2 linked regions of the Homo sapiens genome follow. Changing the gene in region 2 together with the main gene of any one other region gives a genetic interaction. Each region holds a gene or a part of one and is shown on either strand. Other genes may lie near its edges. The genes, in order: FBXW7 and YJU2.

What was found.
Region 1: changes in YJU2 (region 2) and FBXW7 together harm fitness more than expected from each alone (negative genetic interaction), as found in Homo sapiens cells (one large-scale study listed by BioGRID).

Annotation. Positions count from the first base shown.
Region 1 is NC_000004.12:152,410,532-152,414,359, forward strand, and holds part of FBXW7 (F-box/WD repeat-containing protein 7), read right to left. Parts: intron 1,999-3,828; 5' UTR 1,949-1,998; intron 1,342-1,948; 5' UTR 1,273-1,341; coding exon 772-1,272; coding exon of another isoform or gene 742-771; exon of another isoform or gene 629-741; intron 1-628. UniProt on the Homo sapiens protein: Substrate recognition component of a SCF (SKP1-CUL1-F-box protein) E3 ubiquitin-protein ligase complex which mediates the ubiquitination and subsequent proteasomal degradation of target proteins.
Region 2 is NC_000019.10:4,263,834-4,266,915, reverse strand, and holds part of YJU2 (splicing factor YJU2), read right to left. Parts: intron 1-3,082.

The sequences.
Region 1 (3,828 bases), on a different chromosome or scaffold from region 2:
AGTAAGGTTTTACAAGCAGATGTAAAACATGATTTAGCATTTCAATTATTATTAATCCAAGTGTGTAAGATACTTCATTCCAAGTCAAGTTAGGTTAAACGATACGATGTTAAATCAGTTTGTATATTGTTTATGGCCTAAAATCACTGTAAAATGTAAGAAATAAGCAAGTAGGAGTAAGAGGATGAACTACCACAGACATTATGTTAATGTCTATAAAACAAGTATATTCAAGTTAAAATGTTCCTTTCCAAAACATAGTTTAACTTGTAAGTCTACTCTACATGAATATTCATTATTTCTAATTCTCAAATGATAAATAACTAGAACTAATTTGAGGCAACTTCTGAGTAATTTATGCCTTAGAGTGACACTTGTGAATAGCCCACTCTAGCAGCTGCATTTTGTAAATAAAAAGTTTCTTCATTACTTGATTTACACAAATCATGTTTCACCCGAAACCTCTACACCCCACACAAGCTACTAATCCCTGCCCGGGACGCAAGGTTTAGACGAAAATTTGATGTTAATAATTTTTCATAGTAATAGGCTCAATTACTTTCCCTCCATTTGTACTCAGATTGTCCCATTATCAGTATTTCTACTTGTAATACTTTCCATTACCTTCTGTAAGACAAAAAACTAGTTCATTTTATTATTACACATCTTAAGATTAATTTTTAGTAATACAAAGACTGTGAGGAAAGTTTCATTACAATTAAAATAGATATGTAAAGTTTCTCAGGTTAACAATATATTGAATATACTCACTTTTGTTGTTTTTGTATAGAATGGGGAGGAGAGTTGGTGAACGGGCAGGTCCACAATACTACTGGAGTTCGTGACACTGTTAGTATGTGTATGTTCATCTTCTCTGCTACTATCATCAGACTGATCAAAATCGTCACTCTCCTGGTCCATCTCCTCCTCCTCCTCATCCTCCTCATCTTGTTCACCAGCATGTTCTTCATCTTCCTCTTGTTCTTCTTGGTTTCCTGAGGAGTCCTCATCTACCGAAATAAATCTATTATTGTTTTCTTCCAACTGTCCTTGCTGGGAATCATTTTGGCCTCCAGGTCTAGGTTCTACTCCAACAACTTCACCATTCCTTGCAGTGTGCTCCTCCTCTTGTTGTCTGAGTTGCTGTTGCTGTTCCTCCTCTACCACACGATTCATCTGTTCTTCATCTACCTGGCTTGAGGAAGGGTTACCTCTCAGAGAGCCTCCAGTTCGTCGTCTTTTGCTGCCCACAGAGAGCAGTTCCTGATTCATTTCCAAAAGCCAGCTTGCTACTTCTTGGACCTTGGCTAGACTATCAGAAGATGCAAAGGTTTTCACATTCTGCAGGGGAAAATAGGGTAAAAAACAAGATTTGTACAATCTATATTATGTTCTACTTTCATGTTATATGTCTACTTTCTAAATATCATTAATGATTGCAAAAAAGTATTGATGCCACCAAGGCATTAAAATGTTCTTTAGTAAACAATATAGAACATTTCAATTTTAAAAGTTATAAGACTTTATAAAGACATGCACAAAAACCATAGTAAACAACACTAATCCCTTTTAATAATTTTTAGCATGAAGATTTATAGTTTAATTCCTTTGACCAATAAAACATAATATTTCAAGCAAATAAAACAATTTTAATTTTACATCAGTAGTTCATAGACTATATCCTATATAAAACTTCCACAAAATTTTAAGAAGTGTATCAAAAAAAATTTTCAGTGTTCAGTTAATTTGGGAAATGCTGAGGTAAATCAGATTAAAAGGCTTTTTACCCTGGGTATTTCCCAAACTTTTCTGATCACAGAATCTTGCCTTCAGACACAGTTTTCTAGCAGGTAACAATTATAATCATTATTATTTTAATTTTTTTACAAATGACTGGACAGAAAATGAACAAAAAATTTATTTAAAAAAAAAGTTCATAAGTTCATACCCTCTGACCCAGTAACTCCACTTCTGGCAATCTATCCTAAGGAAGTAATCCTAAAACAGAAAAAAAAAATTTATACAGAGGATGCTCACTGCAGTTTATCCACGAAAGCAAAAAATAAAGATAAAAATAAATGTAAATAAAAATGTAAATAAAAATCCAAATGTTCAATATAAAGGAATCTATGAGATGGGATATATATGGTGTAATCCCTAAACATGACGTTCATAAAATATTTTTAAAAACATGGATGTTATAATATATTATGCTAAGGGGAAAATGCTGGAAATTGTGATTATAGTATGATTTTTAAACTGTATGAAGACTAGAAGACAACATTTCAAAATAAACTGCATCTTAGGCAGTGGTATTACTGATGCTTTAAACTTACTTCTTTTTATCATATTTCTCAATTTTTATATATCAAGCATGTTTGCCTTTATGTTTTTTAACCTAGGCTCTAGAATTTTATCTGATACAGCATCTTTTCATGATATTCATTCTTACATTTTATCCTTTGCTGGTATCTATATGGACATCTTTGAAGTCAGATAAAATGCCAACATGTTGTGCACACACAAGAAATTATGCACCCGTGATCTAAAACTTGAAACTGCTAACAAATGAAGTATTGTCAATTCTAGTCTTTTTCAGAGAAAACCTTTAGTATGATTTACAACAGTGTATCATAAAACACAAACATCAACAAACAGAAGCCCATATCCTAAAATTTGAGGAAGGTCTTTTATTTCTTCCTACCATAATACAAAATGTCAAGATATATCAAATATTAATATAGAACTTATTATTTTATCGGTAACTGATGTGACTGAACTTGAGTTCAGTAAAATAAAATCTGATGGCTAACAAACAACATTAAGTTGCATGGTTTTCTTGGCAACTGGACATGATGGGAATAGAAATGATTCAAGGTCAGGAAGAATACTAATAAAAGAAATAGAATTTTAAATTGAAAATGTTCCTCACTTTGCAGGCAAGGTAATCAAGGCTCAAAATGATTTAGTAAATTTCTCAAGATTACTAGTTTCAAGTAAAGCAGGGACAAGAATTTAACACCCAACTGAGTCTCCTTTCATGCACCTTAAAGTAACTACATAAAATCCTGAAAGAATATTATTCTCTAACACTGATACTGCCTTCTTTTCCAAAACTCGAATCACTACAATACTCAAAGATTATTACTCTAAAACAAATTATTTGCTGAGCATTCAATATGCTTCCTGTACATGTCAATTTTCTGGAGGATAATGTTTAGAATAATGTCTCTTTCAAGTTAACCAATGACATTTCATCTTTTTTGACCAGAACCCACAGTAAAATTATGTTTAACATCACAACTCTGCATGCATGCATTTAAACATATTAAAACAGTGATTTCAGAGAAAGGGAATTATGAAACATTTCTGGTATCTAAAGTCCCTATAAATCACCACCGTTAATCAAATACAGTTGATTCCCATTCACAGTAATTGTGTTCTATAAAATTGCTGCAACCACTGAATTAACAAATACTGAGCCATTGCTCCTAGGGGAAATACAGTTCTCACAAGCCTCTGGTCACAACACTGTTGCCAACTGATCAATGCATAACCTTTTTTATGCGTGTTTCTGCCTAAATATATCTTTAATATACATTGATTCATTAGCATCGAACTCATGGTCAACAGCATTATAACTAATGCCTGAATTAAGTTTCTTTAACACACATTAGTTTATCTTTAAGGCAAATTACAGCCTTCCTGCACTTCGGAACATTAAACAGAACTTCAGGCTATGTTTGGGGGCCATTCTAAACTGCACAATCACTAACAAAAAGCACCAAAATGAGGAAAATGCTTTTTCCTCATGGACCATGAAAATGA
Region 2 (3,082 bases):
AGCTCACTGCAGCCTCGAACTCCTGGGCTCAAGCGATTCTCCTGCCTCAGCCTCCTGCAGGTGCACGCCACCATGGCAGGCTAACATTTTTAATTTTTGTAGAGACGGGATCTCGCTATGTTGCCCAGGCTGGTCTCAAACTCCTGGCTCAAGCGATCCTCCCGTCTCAGCGTCCCAAAGAGCTGGGATGACAGGCGTGAGCCACTGCATCTAGCCTCTTCAATCTGTTTTATGTTTAAATAGAGGAAGTGGTAACCACTGGGTTAAGGAAGTCCCAATGGGTGCTCTGCCCTCACGGAGCTCACCGTGTGGGGAGGGAGAGGGACAAGGAGACCAATACCCAGGATAACATCCATCTGGGTGAGAGAGAAGCCAGGGTGCGTGAGCTTGAATTGTGAGGATGAGCTTCTCAGAGGAAGGGCGTCTTGCATTGGGTATTGAAGGGCGAGTAGGAGTTCACCAAGCGAGTGCTTGGCAAAGGGGGCATCCCAGGTAAGGGGAATGGCATGGGTAAAGGCGTGATGAGAAGCCACAGTGTGATTCAGGAAGTGCCAGGGCAGGCTAGGTGGGATGGAGAATGGGCAGAGACCTTGAGTGCCAAGCTGACGGTGTGAGGGGCGGCCACTGCTAAGGTGGTGGAGAGGCCTCCTTAAAGTTGTGGCTCTGGGCCGGGCGCAGTGGCTCATGCTTCTAATCCCGGCACTTTGGGAGGCCAAGGCAGGTGGATCACGAGGTCAGATAGAGACCATCCTGGCTAACACGGTGAAAGCCCGTCTCTACTATAAATACAAGAAATTAGCCAGGCTTGGTGGCACACGCCTGTAATCCCAGCTACTCGGGAGACTGAGGCAGGAGAATCGCTTGAACCTGGGAGGCAGAGGTTGCAGTGAGCCGAGATCGTGCCACTGCACTCCAGCCTGGGTGACAGGGCGAGACGCCGTCTCGAAAAAAAAAAAAAAAAATGTCGTAGCTCTGGGCTGATGTCAAAATGAGGAAAAGAAGTCAAAAGGCACAGATGGCCAGGCACAGAGGCACACACCTGTAATCCCAACACTTTGGGAGGCCGAGGCGGGTGGACCACTTGAGGTCAAGAGTTCGAGACCAGCCTGGTCAACATGGTGAAACCCCGTCTCTTTATTAATAAAAAGAAAATACAAAACCTAGCCAGGTGTGGTAGCACACGCCTGTAATCCCAGCTACTCAGGAGGCTAAGGCAGGACAATTGCTACAGGCTGGGAGCCGGAGGTTGCAGTGAGCCGAGACCGTGCCACTGCACTCCAGCCTGGGCGAAAGAACAAGACCGTCTCAAAAAAAAAAAAGTTACCTAGGTTAGTTCCCAAACCTGTTTCTACAGGTGGTACTCATCATCATTAAACTAAACTAAGGATTGGGAGGCCAAGGCGGGAGGACTGCTTGAGGATAGGAGTTTGAGACCAGCCTAGACAACATACAGACTCGCCTCTAAAAAAAAAAAAAGAAAAGAAAATTAAAAATTAGCTGGCTGTGGTGGCACACACTACACACTTGTGGGTCCCAGCTACTTGAGAGGCTGAGGTGGGAGGATCATTTGAGCCCAGGAGTTGGAGGCTGCAGCGAGCTGTGATCGCGTCACTGCACTCCAGCCTGGGTGACAGAGCAAGACCTCATCTCTAAAATAAAAATAAAATAAACCAAGAAAACGCAAGTGTGGAGATATTCCTTCCTATAAAAGTTAGGGTGAAGGTTTGAAAAGTCTTGATGAAGGTGAATCACGTTAAAACCAAATAAAACACCTGCTATCAAATCAGGTAGAGGCACAAGACTGAGGGAGTAAATCAAAAAAGGTTGGACTGCTTTCAAAGTACCTTTACTCTGTTGATTCATTCAAAAAAAAAAGAAAAGAAGAGAGGAAGTTGTAGACAATGAATTCTGGGAGTGGTTTATGTGAGAACCACAGTGTGAGAACTCTAATCAGAGGACACAGCTTCAAAGAAAATGTCTTTTAGAAAAATGTCTTGGGGCCAGACATGGTGGCTGATGTCTGTAATCCCTGTGCCTTGGCGGGAGAACTGCTTGAGGCCAGGTGCGTGAGACCAGCCTGGGCAACACAGCAAGACCGCATCTCTGCAAAAAGAATTTGAAAAATTAGGGGCCAGGCACAGTGGCTCACGCCTGTAATCCCAGCACTTTGGGCGGCCGAGTCAGGTGAATCACCTGAGGTCAGGAGTTCTAGATCAGCCTGGCCAACATGGTGAAACGCCATCTCTACTAAAAATACAAAAATTAGCCGGGCATGGTGGCAGGCGCCTGTAATCCCAGCTACTTGGGAGGCTGAGGCAGTAGAATCGCTTGAACCCGGGGGGCGAAGGTTGCAGTGAGCCAAGATCACACCACTGCACTCCAGCCTGGGCAACAAGAGTGAAACTGTCTAAAAAAAAAAAAAGAAAGAAAGAAAAGAAAAATTAGCCAGGCGTGGTGGTGCGTGCCTGTGGTCCCAGCTGCTCAGGAGACTGAGGTGGGAGGATTGCTTGAGCCTAGGAGGTTCAGGCTGCAGTGAGCTGGGACTGCATTACTGCACTCCAGCCTGGGCAACAGAGTAAGACCCTGTGTCAAACAAACAAACAAAAAAGGAAGAAAGAACAATCGTTTCTTTTTTTTTTTTTTTTTTTTTTTTTGAGACAGAGTCTCGCTCTGTCGCCCAGGCTGGAGTGCAGTGGCACAATCTCGGCTCACTGCAAGCTCCACCTCCTGGGTTCACGCCATTCTCCTGTCTCAGCCTCCTGAGTAGCTGGGACTACAGGCGCCCGCCACCACGCCCGGCTAATTTTTTGTATTTTTAGCAGAGATGGGGTTTCACCGTGTTAGATAGGATGATCTCGATCTCCTGACCTCGTGATCCACCCGCCTTGGCCTCCCAAAGTGCTGGGATTACAGGTGTGAGCCACCGCGCCCGGCCGAGAACAATCGTTTCTGTGTGTCTGTGTTATTGGTTTATGAGCCCCTACTTTTACCACCTTCTTCAATGAACAAACCAGAGTGGCTGAGGCCACCTTGGATGAGTCAGCTGTGGTGGAAAATGCTGGTCATCCACCAAAACTCCTTC